Linked DNA regions of Homo sapiens. The protein of the gene in region 2 interacts with the protein of the main gene of each other region in a pairwise test. Each region holds a gene or a part of one and is shown on either strand. Other genes may lie near its edges.

Region 1 (3,101 bases), on a different chromosome or scaffold from region 2:
CAGAATCCTTCCTGGGTTCCAAGTCGGCCCCTCATTATGGGGGCCCTGGCCCACGGTTCCCTGGGAGCTCTTCCTGCCTGTCGCTCGGGGTACATGCACGCAGGACTTACCGGCCCCCAATCCTAGCCCTGCCCTTGGCCTCCTTCCCTGAGACCTGGCCAGAGTCCCCCTTCACTGTGGCTGCTTCCAGGCAGCTCTGCAGGGAGGTCCAGAGACGGGGCTGACCCCATCCTTAGACTCCCAGGCCCCGTGACCCCTCTCCTGATATCCTCTTCCACCCCAGGGGACTCAGGGAGGAGGGGTCTCTGGATGTCTCTTTCCTCCCCTTGGGCTCCCACAGTGCTCAGCCACACCTGGGGTCTTGCCATGAATGAGTTCCCCCAGGCGCCTACCTGTGGGCCTTAGGCCCCGCCCAGCATTCCAAGGAGAGCCCCCAGCCCTCAGGCGTTCCTGCCACCCTGGGCCACGGGGCCCACTGGAGTCGTGGTATCGGAGAGAAATGAGTTTTTCCTTTTATTTGGCTGCTGCCCCTGCCTGCCTCTCCCGGATCCTGCCTCTCCCGGATCAGGCTTGGGCAGCAGCGCAGGCAGGGAAGGGGACTCCGCACTCATGTGCCCACGAGACCACAGCAGGCCCCACCCGCATTCCCACGCTCCCACACCTCCTGCCTCAAAGCCCTCACTCTCCTAAAAGCATCGAGAACACACAGGGCTCGGAGGCGCAGGAGTGCGAAGGCGGCATTCCAAGACGAGTTCGAGTCCAAGATGAGTTCAGGATCCTGAGCCTTTCTGGCAACTGCCTCCCTAGGCTGGGATGTGGGGGCGCAGCCCCAGGCCCCGGAGCTCCTTCTCTCTGCCCCAGGCTGGGATGTGGGGGCGCAACCCCGGGTCCCGGAGCTCCTTCTCTCTGGCGAGCTCCTTCTCTTCCACGCCAGGTCTCAGCCGGTCCAGTTCTGCTCTGTCCAAGACGCCTTTGCAGTCCCGGGTTTTATAGTCCAGCTGCCAGCCCGGCCTCCCTGCAGCCCAGCCGGTGCCTCGAGGCCGGTCAGGAGCGCGGATGGCCCATCCCGGGGGCGGATCGCAGGTAGCCCCGCGGCCAGGGAGGCGGCCCGGCAGAGGAAGCCCCCGGACAGCGGCGCCAGCTTCCCCCGGAGGCCTGTGCTAGGCCCGGCCCCTCGGCCACCGCACTGGGCCGTGCCAGGGGCGCGTGCGGGGGGCACGAGGCGCAGCGGGGCGCGGACGGCACCGAGGGGCGGGCGGCGTCTGGGCGCGCGAGGCTGGGCCCTGCAGGCGGCGGGGGGCTGGCGCCTGTGTCCCCGGTGTCCCCGCGCGCGGCCGGGCCGTGGCACTCCAGGTGTCCGCAGGGCCCGCGGGGCGCGGGGCTGGCGCGCAGGACCAGGGAGAGCGCGGCGATGCGGTGGATGGCCCTGCGCAGCGTGGCGATCTTGGAGAGCCTCTTGCCGCCCAGGTCGTGCCGCAGCGCCCGGCGCAGCGCGTTGAAGGCCTCGTTGTAGTCTAGGATGCGCTTGCGCTCCCGCACGTTGGCGGCCATGCGCCGCGCCTTGGACCGCACCGGCCGCGCGCGCCTCCTGCCCGCCGGCTCCTCCGCCTCGCCCCGGCTGCAGGAAGCGCCGTTCGCCCCCAGCACCCCCGAATCGCCCCCGGGCTCGGGGCAGGGGCCCCCCAAGTCCTCCGCAGAGTCCTCGGCCCCCTTCCGCGCCGTGAGGCCTAGTCCTGGCGCGCCCCGCAGCATGGCCTTCCCGGGCACTCGCCCTCTGCCCCAGCCCCGGCCCTCTGCCCTCTGCCCTCTGCCCACTGCCTTGGCCCGGCTCGCGACGCGGACGGTCCCCGGCTCCTGGGGCTGGACACTCCCGAGACAGGCCCCTTCCAGCTGGGCTTTATGGCACCACGCGGCGCCCCGCCCTCCCGTCCATCCATCTCCCTCCTCCTGCTTTATTATCGGCCTCCAGGTAGGTCGGCGGGGGAGGAACCGAGGGGAAGAAGGAAAGCAAGGAGGGAAGCTTGCAGGTTCTTGTAAGCGGGGACCAGACGGGCAGCCCGGCCACGCTGCCCCGGGGACCTTGCCCTGCCTAGCTCTGGGGCCGCTGTGGGGTGTCTGGGTTCCACATTCTTCCTCCCCATTCCCAGATAAGGTGCTAAGTTTGGCTTCTAGCAGGAGAGCTGATAGGAATAAAAAGAGGCAGAGGGCCGGGCACTGGGGCTCACGCCTGTCATCCCAGCAGTTTGGGAGGCCGAGGCGGGCGGATCACTTGAGTTCAGGAGTTCGAGACCAGCCTGGCCAACAGAGTATATAAAACCCCGTCTACTAAAAACACAAAAATTAGCCGGGCGTGGTGGCAGGCGCCTGTAATCCCAGTTACTCGGGAGGCTGAGGCAGGAGAATGGCTTGAGCCCAGGAGCTGGAGGTTGCAGTGAGCCGAGATCGCACCACTGCACTCTAGCCTGGGAGACAGAACGAGACTCCGTCTCAGAAAAACAACAACAAAAACAACAACAAAACCTTGAAAGTTCTTGTCAAGTCCCGTGGGCAACCACAGAGATGTCACTGAGGAAAAGCATGAGTGTCCCGGCAGGACTCATATGGGAGGCGCAGGGCCCTGCAGGTAAAGCTGACCCAGAGCTTCCGGCTTTTTCAGCTATGGAGGGCGGCTGGCTGCAATTGGGGTTCGGGTTTTGGTTGGGCCTGACTCTCCCTCCACTGCCCTTTGACTCCCCTTCTGCAGGCAGAGCTGGGATGAGTCAGCAGCAGAGGGTGACGGGGAAGATCCCTTTGCAGCCCTGGGTCCACATCAGGGGCATCTTTGGGGTCCAGAGCCCTCGGGCAGCCCCATCTTGTGACACAGCCCTGCCAGGTTATGAACTCAATGAGCAGCCTCTGTCCTCTTCCCCCAGGGATTTGCATTTGAAAGAGGGTCTCAGAAAAAAGATGATGTTTATTCCCAAAGAAAGACCCCCAGTAGAATTTCCGGCATCCACAGCTGAGTTATTTGGAGCGCCTGAAGGCCACTCATTCCCAGTCACAATCCAAATGCCTCTAAGATGCCAAGGCCTATGGCATTGGAATGGGTGTGTGGTTCACAT
Region 2 (3,500 bases):
CTGCACTTATGGCACCGAGATCATCTCTAAGTGGAAAAGCCTCCTAGAGAATGACCAGCTCTTGTCCCATGGCGGACAGGACCTCTCAGCAGATGCCTTTCACAGGTACACCACAGAGCAGGGCTCTGTACCCCAGCTCCTTTCTCCTGGGGGGTTGGGAAGGATTGCTGAAGGTGGGGGAAGGCAGCAGTGCTGGCCTTGATTAATTCTCTGCTCATGCTGACAGTGCTTTAGGAATTTAAATTCATTTGGCTATGAATTTTTTTTTTTTAATTTTTTTGAAATGTTTTATTTCCATAGGGTTTGGGGAACAGGTAGTATTTGGTTACATGAGTAAGTTCTTTAGTGGTGATTTGTGAGATTTTGGTGTACCCATCTCCTGAGAAGTATACATTGAATCCAATTTGTAGTCTTTTTTTTTTTTTTTTTTTTGAGATGGAGTCTCACTCTGTCACCAGGCTGGAGTGCAGTGGCGTGATCGCAGCTCACTGCAACCGCCAACTGCCTGGTTCAAGCGATTCTCCTGCCTCAGCCTCCCAAGTAGCTGGGATCACAGGCACACGCCACCACGCCCAGCTAATTTTTGTATTTTTAGTAGAGACAGGGTTTCACCATGTTGGCCAGAATGATCTCAATCTCCTGACCTCGTGATCCACCCGCCTTGGCCTCCAAAAAAATGCTGGGATTCCAGGCGTGAGCCACCGTGCCTGGTTCAATTTGTAGTCTTTTATCCCTCACCCCCTTCCCATCCTTTCCCCGAGTCCCCAAAGTCCATTGTGTCATTCTTATGCCTTTGCATCCTCATAACTTAGCTTCCACTTATAAGTGAGAACATAAGATGTTTGGTTTTCCATTCTTGAGTTACTTCACTTAGAATAATAGTCTCCAATTCCAACCAACTTGCTGCGAATGCCATTATTTCATTCCTTTTTATGGCTGAGTCATATTCCATTATATTTATACCACAGTTTCTTTATCCACTTGTTGATTGGTGGGCATTTGGGTTGGTTCCACATATTTGCAACTGCGAATTGTGCTGCTGTAAATTTGTGTGAGCAAGTATCTTTCTCGTATATGACTTTTTTTTTTTTTTTTTTTTGAGATGAAGTCTTGCTTTGTCGCCAGGCTGGAGTGCAGTGGCACGATCTCGGCTCACTGCAACCTCTGCCTCCCGGGTTCAAGCGATTCTCCTGCCTCAGCCTCTCGAGTAGCTGGGACTACAGGCGCTCGCCACCATGCCCAGCTAATTTTTGTATTTTTAGTAGAGACAGGGTTTCACCATGTTGGCCAGGATGGTCTCGATCTCTTGACCTCGTGATCCGCCTGCCTTGGCCTCCCAGAGTGCTGGAATTACAGGCGTGAGCCTCCGTGCCCAGCCATGACTTCTTTTCCTCTGGGTAGATACCCAGTAGTGGGATTGCTGGATCAAATGGTAGTTGTACTTTTAGTTCTCTAAGGAATCTCCACACTGTTTTCCATAGTGGTTGTACAATTACATTTGGCCATGAATTCAGCTGACACTTGTCAAATGTCTGTTGCGTATCATGCTTGTGCTAGGTGCTGGGCTTACCCTAGGAGCACAGCAGACAGCCTCTGTCTACAGTACAGCAAAAAAAGCAGATGGGAAGTAAGGTAGTGAACAAATAAAGGCAGGATGCACACCAGGTACAGCGATAGAGAACTGCAGGAGCAACCTACTTGGAACGGGGGTTGGCACAGAGGTCTTAGGGGAGGTGACGTTGAAATTGTGATAAGAGGGTGAGAGGCATCAGCTCATGAATAGAAGCCTATAGGTGGGAAAGCACTTGATACCTGGGAAGAGGCCCTTGTGACCCTAAAGCAGCTCTGCCAGGTGGATGGGCACTACCTAGGAGACTGAGGCCTCAGATTGAGAGGAGAGTCAAGAGAACAAGGAAGAGGCAGGCTCAGTCTGGCCAGTATGGTGACTGGCCTGATGGTTTCCTCTGATTGGATTTCCATGCTGTTGCATTTTTATTCCTGATTCTAGAGAGGCAGGTGGTGGTGGTGTACTTTGAAACCAGTCAGTGTAATTAACCAGCCTGTCCTCTGCCTTTCTCCCATAGGTTGATATGGGAAGTCTGGATGCCTTTTGTTCGAAATATTGTCACCCAGTGGCAGCCAAGGAACTGTGACCCGATGGTGGACTTTTTGGATAGTTGGGTGCACATTATTCCTGTGTGGATCTTAGATAACATACTGGACCAACTCATCTTCCCCAAGCTGCAAAAGGAGGTGGGATGAGAGTCATGGGAAACAGTCGTCATCACTAATCACAGGGACTTGTTCAGTCTGTGGCTTCATTATCTCAGTGCTGTTAAAACGCCTGGAATTAACGGAATTTGTCAACACAACTATTGACCTATAGTGTTAATTCCAGCCTTTTTCTCAGCACTTTTTCCCCCAAGCCACCCTCAGGAGGGAATTCATTTTCTTGATTTTGTCACTAAAATTAGAATTGTGCTGTTTCTGAGATGTAATCAAATGGATGGGCATATTTGTTTGGCAATGTACAAAGGACTGTGGGCCTCAGAGAGCACAGGGCCTCCTCCAGGGGCAGCTCTTGCCTTTAGCCACACAGGGGTGTTATGTGACTGCCCCACAGGCGACATGAACTGTTTCTCCTCCCCACTTCGCAGGTGGAAAACTGGAACCCGCTCACAGACACTGTTCCCATCCACTCTTGGATCCACCCATGGCTGCCCCTTATGCAGGCACGGCTGGAGCCACTCTATTCCCCCATCCGTAGTAAGCTGTCCAGCGCCCTGCAGAAGTGGCACCCCAGCGACTCCTCTGCCAAGCTCATCCTCCAGCCCTGGAAGGATGTCTTCACTCCTGGCTCCTGGGAAGCATTCATGGTCAAAAACATAGTGCCCAAGCTGGGTAAGGATAAGGGGAAATGCATTCCAAGCCCAGCAGCTTTGGTGCCCTGGTTTCTGTGGTTAGCAGTGATGATTTAAAGCATCGCCTTTATGTTCATGAAAGTGCTTAGTACACAATATTCCTTGCTGTGAAAAAGGTAACATTTTGTTCAGAGGCTGAACATAAATGTAACTTGGGTCCTTTCCGCTGTTTATTTACAACAGTCACTAATAGTCGACAGTGACAATATCGGACTCTGTGCCTTGTGGTTTTCCCGATTGGTTTTGGCTTCTGGTAATAGGACAGCCATTGGAGTTCTAAAATTTTTGTGGTATTTTACTCTAAATTATTAGGGAGTTATTTCCAGGTTAGCAAAAAAAATATATATACATACACACACACACACACACATATATGTATATATATACACACATGCATATACATGTATATATACACATGTATATACACATATATGTATATACACACATATATATGTATATATGTATACACACACACACATATATATATGTGTATATATATACACATATATATTTTAAGAATCGCTATGTCGGGAGCTTAAATTTGACCTTTAAAAGCAGATTACAGCCTGAGCAACATGG
Region 3 (3,500 bases), on a different chromosome or scaffold from region 2:
GAATAAAATTTTAAAGGTAGTGTCAATATAAATTCATACCAAGATTAGCTGAAGGGAAAGTAACTCCCATAAGACATCTCATTTTGTTTCCACTGAGCCTGTTCTGACTCCTTGAAATGGCAGAAACAGGGGTAATAACAATATCTTTTATCATGTATTACCTTATGCTTTTCAAAAAAAGTTTCAAAAACACAATAAATATTTGAATAAATGCACTTAGATAATCCCAAATCAGAGTCAAGAAAATATATAAAAGTTAAATTCAAATGATAGAATTTGTCCATTTTTCCATTCAAATTACAATTTAAGTCAAGTAAAGAAAGACATACAAAAGCTGCATGATTAGGAGGGAGTGCAGCGCTCATCCTCCTGTCCCCAAGGCCGATTAGCCAGCTGGGTGAGAGATGAGATCATGAGTTCTGGGCCAATGAGTCACTGCCCTTCACCATTGCCCCCAGACACAAACAGCTGCAGGTCTCCCAAAGCGTGTGTCCACCCTACGGAGCTGCCACCCTACAGAGGAGAAAATGTGGGTGAAAGTAAGCAAAAGCAACATCACAACCATGAAATTAACTCAGTGTTCTACAAATGGAGAATTATATATCTCTTTCTGAATGAAGAGCAGCATATTTCATACACAGTGTGGAAATAAACATTGAGTAAATTGTTTTCAAAATTGTCATACCTAGGAGTAAACCCAGCAATAGGTAAATTATAAATTAAAGGAGCCCTTCTTTCTTCCTCCATCTATCCATCCATCTAGACTGTAAGGTATTTATTAGGCATCTACTGGTGCTAAATACTTCTTAATGATTTTAGTACACCCCGATGTGCCCAGTCCTTCTGATGAAACAATATCCGGAAACTTCATGAGAATGAATTCTCTTTTTTCCACGGGACTATAGGCTTCTCAATGGTGTAGACAACACTATCTATTTGAATTTACATATCAATTTACACATATATATACAAACATAAGTATATATATTTTTTATATTCAAGAGCTATCATAGTATCTGACTATATAGTGTATGCATCTCAATAAATATTTAAACTGAACTGAACTTCTGAAACTCCTGATTGGTTTCAAAAGATATAAAAATAATAGACTTGGTTAATCTATGCATTGGATTAATACATCCTAAATATAATTAAGAGTTTGGTCTAATCCAGTGAGAACAGAGTAAACCATAAGTGTACTACATAGATGAGGGAGTAAGGAGATAAACCAGAACTGAAACCTTGAGTTGAAGAAGTCTACATTGGAGTCAGAAAAACAGGTTATATCCATAACAAACTATAACAGAAGAAGGAGAGAGCAGACGATTCCAGAGAACCAGGGAAGGCTGAGAAGCATTATTGATTTGCTAGGTGGTAAATGAGGGATGACATTTTGATGCGTTCAGATTGGGAGCAAGAAAGACGGATTCTGTAATATTCTCGGTGGGCAGAATAATGTGCATAATAAAAAGGCCAGAGTGTCCGTTTTAAGTGTTTAAGGGCCAGTGTATGGAAAGCTTGAAAAGAGATGCTAAGAATTTGCTTGGGGGGAGATAATGAGTCTCTGAAAGCCCCTTCCACAGAGGAACAATAACCCAATCAGATCTGTGCTTTGTGAGGACTGTCCTGGCAGCAGTGTGCAGGCCTGATTGGAAGGAGTTACTCAACAGAGACATAATGACATAATCCAGTATCAGAACTGGGAAGACACAGGAAGGGCTGGAACACCTTCTGAAGAGGCATCCTAGGTGTGGCTGTTAAGCTCTAAGGCCTAAGAATACCAGGCTCCCTTAGTTCTCTCTAGACTGGATGGCCCTTGAGAACAATCTACATTTTTGGTTTTGGGGGAGTTTTTTCATTTTTTTTTTGAGACAGGGTCTTGCTATGTTGTCCAGGCTGGAGTGCAGTGGCTATTTGTAGGCACAAGCATAGCGCACTGCCACCTTGAACTCCTGGCCTCAAGCAATCCTCCCGCCCCAGCCTTCCAAGGAGCTGGGACTATAGGCATGCACCACCATGCCTGGCACTCTACATTTTTAAGTACCCTGCAATGTACAACACTGTACTGTGTATACAGTAGGTGCTAGTGTTTGTGAATGAATAAATAAACACAATGGAAGAAATTAATGGATAAGTTAATGTCTCTAGGAGATAATTCTATAAACTAAGGAACACAAAATGATTAATAGAGTCGAGGCAATTTAAGGCCCCCAAATCTACTGTTTAAATTGAATACAGATGCTCTATCCCCAAGGACAGTGTCTCACATTTCATTTTGCTTGGCCTGCAGCTATAACACAAGACGCTAGGGAAACATTAAGACTTGTACTGAAATACGCAAACTTTTTTTCTTCAGAAGATTTGTGATCCCAAAACAGCTCTTGCAACTCTAAGTTTCCAGTGTAGCAGAAATATTAGAACCCCGTTTTATCTCTGTATTTACTTTTTTTTTCACTTGACCATTGTAAAATAATCTTCCTTTTCCTATCAGTGTTGGAGTAAGATGAGGCATGCTTTCACTACAAATGCAAAACACGCACATTCTCCTGTGTTAAAAATAAAGTCCAATAATCAATCCACTCACAAACCAAGAGATGACAGGTACAGGCCAGGCGCGGTGGCTCACTCCTGTAATCCCAGCACTTTGAGAAGCCGAGGCAGGCGGATCACTTGAGTTTAGGAGCTCAAGACCAGCCTGGCCGACATGGTGAAACTCTGTCTCTACTAAAAATACAAAAATTAGCTGCACGTGGTGGGGCATGCCTGTAATCCCAGGTACTTGGGAGGCTGAGGCAGAAGAATTGCTTGAACCTGGGAGGCGGAGGTTGCAGTGAGCCAAGACTGCGCCACTGCACTCCAGCCTGGGCTACAGAGCAAGACTCCGTTTCAAAAAAAAAAAAAAAAAGATGACAGGTATGAAAAAGAAAAGTTAGGTAGGCGTACATGTCACAAAATGCAATTTCAACTCAGATTCCACATTCAGGACACAACTTACTCATTAAACTTTAGATATTTCACCTTTCAACCTGTGAAAGCGATTAGTCTCCATGCAAGGCCACCTGTCAAATGCACGTTTCTACTCCTGGTAGATTTGTTCATCTGGGCGAACATAATTGTGTTAATGATCAATATCAATCCTAGACATGTACAGCTCTGGGGAGTTAAAGTAGCTACGACATTCGGGCAGATGACTGCAAAGAAGCTATCTAGGCTTCCTGAAATGGAACCACCTGGGCAAGGGAAGGAAGCAAAATGTGGAAGCCCAATGAGCAGGGAATAGGAAATTTACACAGTAGCTCAAATCCTGCACAATCCCAATCCTGCAGGACAACGATCACAGCATCTTAGCACTGGAAGGGTTCCCATTCATCATCCAACGCAGCCCCCTCCCCAGTGCAGAACCCTCATGACAGTCACCCTAGAGTCATCCACACTGCCCTACATACTTCCAATGACAAAATGCTCTCTGCCTTTCGGGGTAGCCTATTCCATCAATGGAT
Region 4 (4,076 bases), on a different chromosome or scaffold from region 2:
TCTGACCTCAGGTGATACACCCGCCTCGGCCTCCCAAAGTGCTGGGATGACAGGCGTGAGCCACCGCGCCCGACCCCTCCCACCTTTCTTGATCTTCTTCTCCTGGATCTTCTCCGTGCACATCTTATAGGCTTCAGACTGCTGGTACGCCCGCAGCTCCTTCATGTACTGCTGCTTCTCTCTCTCGGCCTCATCCAGGTACCGCTGGGGGGCAGCACCAGAAGGCTTGAAGCAGGGGAAGCCTCCAACGCCAGGATCCAGTCTTTATCACTCTGCTTTCACAGCACCCTCCCCTCTCCTGAACCTTCTATAGCTCCCTATTCCCTCCAGGCAGACAGAACCGGCTCCTCAGCCTGTTGCTCAGGGACCTCCGAGCTCCCACCTCACTTCCCATGCCCCGGACTCTTCCCCACCTCCAGCCCTGACAAACCACTCCCGGACGCCAGAGTCATGGGCAGGAACCCAACCTCCAGCGTATGCGGATGCCTGGACTCCCTCCCGCACCCGTTTCTCTCTTTGAAATCTCACTTACAGGGATGCAAAGCAGTGATGGCTTTTGTTACATTTCCGTGATGTTTTTGCAATTTTTAAACTAACAGGATATGAAAATCGGGTTTCGCAAAAAATCCAGGCCCCATCCTGACTTCTTAGACATATCTTTGTTGGTCATCCAGTTTTCAATCTGTCTTGCCTCTTGCTAGCCGCGCCCCCAAAAGCTGGTCATGGGCTGGCCACGGTGGCTAACGCCTTTAATATCAATACTTTGGGAGGCTGAGGTGGGCGGATCATTTGAGGTCAAGAGTTCGAGACCAGCCTGGCCAACATGGCGAAACCCCATTTCTACTAAAAATACAAAAATTAGCAGGGCATGGTAGCACGCGCCTGTAATCCCAGCTACCTGAGAGGCTGAGACAGGAGAATTGCTTGAAGCCGGGAGGCGGAGGTTGCAGTGAGCTGAGATCACGCCACTGCACTCCAGCCTGGGCAACAGAGCAAGACTCCATCTCACAAAAAAAAAAAAAAAAAAAGTTGGTTATGGGTGGGCATTTCTCCAGGAAGAAGGAAAAACCCTGCACGTGGAATCCTTTGGGGGTCGGGGCTACTGGGGGGTAGTCCGTGGACCCCGCCAGCCCTGCTCGGCGCCCCGCCCCGCCCACCTGCTTTTCCGTTGGCTGCAGCTTGCTCCACTCGGCGCCCAGCATCTTGGTGATCTCGGGAAAGGGCAGATCCGGGTGGCGCGTGCGGATCTGCTCGCGCCGCTCGTTCAGGAAGCGCACGTAGCCCGTGACCGGTGCCTTGGGCCCATTCGGCAGAATCTTCTTCCGCTTCTTGCCCTTGGGCCAGCCGCGTTTCTTCACCGGCTGCAGAACCGGGCTGCGTCGTTGGGAGGGGGGCCTGGCGTACTGGGGCAGGGCTCAGAGGGGCATGGGCGGGGCCTAACGCGTATGGGCGGGGATGGGGGCGGGGCCTAGCTGGGAGGAAGAACCCGGAAAAGATGGAGGTAGGGCCCGGTCAGCAGTCGGGACACGGTGGGTTAGAGGGATCCCTGGCCAGGGGTGAGGGGATCTGAGGAACTATGGGCCGAGGTTTGAGTACAGGGTTGGCGTTGACTTCGGTTGTGGGCGTGGCCTCTGCTTGGTGGGCGTGGTTTTCTGCTGGAGAACGGGCCCACAGGACCAAGGGGAGGGTGCCGCCCCCAAGGAGTGGAAGTGGGCGGGACCTTAGAGTGGGCAGAGCTGGCATTGTGCGGTGGGCGGGGCCTGGACTTAGAGTGGCAGAGGACCTGTCAGGGGCGTGGCAGCTGGCACGGGGCGGGGTCTCAGCTTCCAGAGGAAAATGGGCTGTGGGCGGAGCCACAAGCAATTCAAATCCAGCCTGGGGCGGGGCTTCGAGGCTGGGGCGGGAGCCCGGGGCCTCCCCCAGCTCAGCGCAGGGACTCTCACCTCCTCCTCGTGGGACCCCTTCTCGCCCGCGCGTGGACCCTCGCCGCGCTCTTGCTTGACAGTCACCACGAAGCCCCCATGCTGGCCCGGAGCCTTGCCGCCCGCCGGCCTGGAGCCAAGGATACCGCGGTCAGCCCCGTCCCAAGAATCTCCCCTCCCCCAAAAGCCCACCCCAGGGCGTTTTGACCCCCGACGGCGGGGCTGCAGCGAGAGTGCATGAGCCCGAGGAGGCAGGGTCTGATGGGGTCAGTATCCGGGGAAGGTGGGACAAGCGGGGCTCCTGGGAGGGACTGGAGGCCGAGGTGGGGGGTGCAGAATTGGGTGGAGGGAGAAGCCCCCTGACCCAGGTGGGGGAGTCAAGACTCCGGCGGGAGGGACTGGGTCAGGGGTTCAGGAGCTAGGGCTGCAGCCGGGAAAGTAGCGAGGGCGTGGGGAGGGGATCAGTGCACTCACGCGGCGGCCGCGCCGGGCTGCTTGGGGCCGTGGGACATGGCCGCTCCGGGCCGGACCTGGAACACGGACGCGGGCGGAGGTGAGTAGCGCCCGGGCTGCCCGATGGCAGACCGCGAACTGGGGTACCCCGCGATGGAGAGCCCCGGGATGCCGGGCCCGGAGCGCTGGGGGGGCCGGATCCAGGGGCAGGGAAGTCCTCGAGGGCGGGCGCCCCAAGAATCCTTTGTTGGGCGATTGCCCCCCCCGGGAGGCCTGGGCCGGTTTCCCCCGGGCCAGGAAAGACCCCGGCCCGGCCCTGGGACCCCTGCACCCCCGCCCCCTCTCAGGGCCCGGAGTTCCGCGGCTGTTTTCACCTCCAAAGAAACTTTCCCGGACCTCCCGACTGCGCGACGCTCCAACCAACCGCCCGCAGCCCGCCCCCGTCGGCCGCCCCGCCCCTCCCCGCCCCCGGCATGCTAATGAAGGCCTCGGCGAACGGTCCCATTGGGTGAGACCTTCCCCCCGGGCGAGCCCATGCAGATACCGATCGGCGCGCCGGCCGGCGATTGGTTGGGGAGGTTGCTGAGTCGCGTGGGAGGTTGGTAAGGAAGGCTGCGGGCGGTGCGTCAAGTTCGGCTGCGCTCGGCCGCGCTCGGGACCAATCGGGAGCGAGTGGCGGACTTGCCGGGCGGAGCCTCTTAAAGGGCCAGTAGGAGAGGCGCGGACTCCTCCTCCCTCTCTGAAGGCAAGACTCCCAGCCGCTGCCGGATGGGGCGACCGGCGGATCCGGGTCGGGCCCCGCCCCGGTTGCCATGGGGACGGAGGTGGGTTGCTAGGGTTAAGGTCCTGCGAGGCAGTCCCCAGCCCTAGGCAAGGTGGGACCTGTTCTTAACATCCTGCAAAACCTAGCGGAGAAGTTTCCTATGTATTTACTCAGTTTAGAGCCCCCGACGTCCGGATCCGAGGGCTTCTGGCCATAGGGGCTGCTCTCCCTCTGGGGTCTCGGCTTTCCCCCCTGTGCAACGGGGACATCACACGATATCCAGGACAGAGAGACTGGGATGCTGGGAAGCTGAGAACTGGGTGTGGGTCAGGCAGGGGGTGGGGTTGGGAGCTGGGCTGGAAGTGTTTGGGGAAAGATGGTGGTGAAGGGAGATGGCAAGGACTTCGTGAGGATGGGTCAGGAGGCTCCGCTCTGGTGGATCAGGGACCTCCCAGCAGCAGTCTAGGCTTCTGGCCCAAGTTGGGGCTGCTCACCTCCTCTTTTGTTTTTGAGACGGAGTCTCACCCTGTCGTCCAGGGTGGAGTGCAGTGGCTGGATCTCGGCTCACTGCAACCTCTGCCTCCCGGGTTCAAGCAATTCTCTGCCTCACCCTCCCGAGTAGCTGGGATTACACGCGCCTGCCACCACGCCCGGCTAATTTTTGTATTTTTAGTAGAGACAGGGTTTCACCATCTTGGCCAGGCTGGTCTTGAACTCCTGACCTCGTGATCCACCCGCCTCGGCCTCCCAAAGTGGTGGGATTACAGACGTGAGCCCCCACGCCCGGCCCACTTCCTCTTCCTCAAGTCCGCTTAAATGTCACTTGCTCAGCCAGGCCTTCTCTGATTTTTTTTTTGCCTCCATAAGTCGGCTTCTCCCTGTGGCCTGCCTGTTTGGTTCACAGCATTGCCCATGGTGGATGCTCAATACACATTCAT

Evidence for each region. Proteins that work in one complex are often made in the same cells at the same time.
Region 1: the proteins of TFIP11 (region 2) and BHLHA9 interact in binary tests that used the Homo sapiens proteins (3 or more experiments, as listed by UniProt).
Region 3: the proteins of TFIP11 (region 2) and DISC1 interact in binary tests that used the Homo sapiens proteins (3 or more experiments, as listed by UniProt).
Region 4: the proteins of TFIP11 (region 2) and HMG20B interact in binary tests that used the Homo sapiens proteins (3 or more experiments, as listed by UniProt).

What each region holds. Positions count from the first base shown.
Region 1 is NC_000017.11:1,269,215-1,272,315, reverse strand, and holds BHLHA9 (class A basic helix-loop-helix protein 9), read right to left. Parts: upstream 1,873-3,101; 5' UTR 1,753-1,872; coding exon 1,045-1,752; 3' UTR 501-1,044; downstream 1-500. UniProt on the Homo sapiens protein: Transcription factor, which play a role in limb development. Is an essential player in the regulatory network governing transcription of genes implicated in limb morphogenesis.
Region 2 is NC_000022.11:26,495,474-26,498,973, reverse strand, and holds part of TFIP11 (tuftelin-interacting protein 11), read left to right. Parts: coding exon 1-105; intron 106-2,084; coding exon 2,085-2,253; intron 2,254-2,657; coding exon 2,658-2,901; intron 2,902-3,500. UniProt on the Homo sapiens protein: Involved in pre-mRNA splicing, specifically in spliceosome disassembly during late-stage splicing events. Intron turnover seems to proceed through reactions in two lariat-intron associated complexes termed Intron Large (IL) and Intron Small (IS).
Region 3 is NC_000001.11:231,633,290-231,636,789, reverse strand, and holds part of DISC1 (disrupted in schizophrenia 1 protein), read right to left. Parts: intron 1-3,500. UniProt on the Homo sapiens protein: Involved in the regulation of multiple aspects of embryonic and adult neurogenesis. Required for neural progenitor proliferation in the ventrical/subventrical zone during embryonic brain development and in the adult dentate gyrus of the hippocampus.
Region 4 is NC_000019.10:3,571,668-3,575,743, reverse strand, and holds the start of HMG20B (SWI/SNF-related matrix-associated actin-dependent regulator of chromatin subfamily E member 1-related), read right to left. Parts: upstream 2,801-4,076; 5' UTR 2,750-2,800; exon of another isoform or gene 2,453-2,749; 5' UTR 2,435-2,452; coding exon 2,397-2,434; exon of another isoform or gene 2,053-2,396; coding exon 1,944-2,052; exon of another isoform or gene 1,927-1,943; intron 1,362-1,926; coding exon 1,158-1,361; intron 205-1,157; coding exon 84-204; intron 1-83. UniProt on the Homo sapiens protein: Required for correct progression through G2 phase of the cell cycle and entry into mitosis. Required for RCOR1/CoREST mediated repression of neuronal specific gene promoters.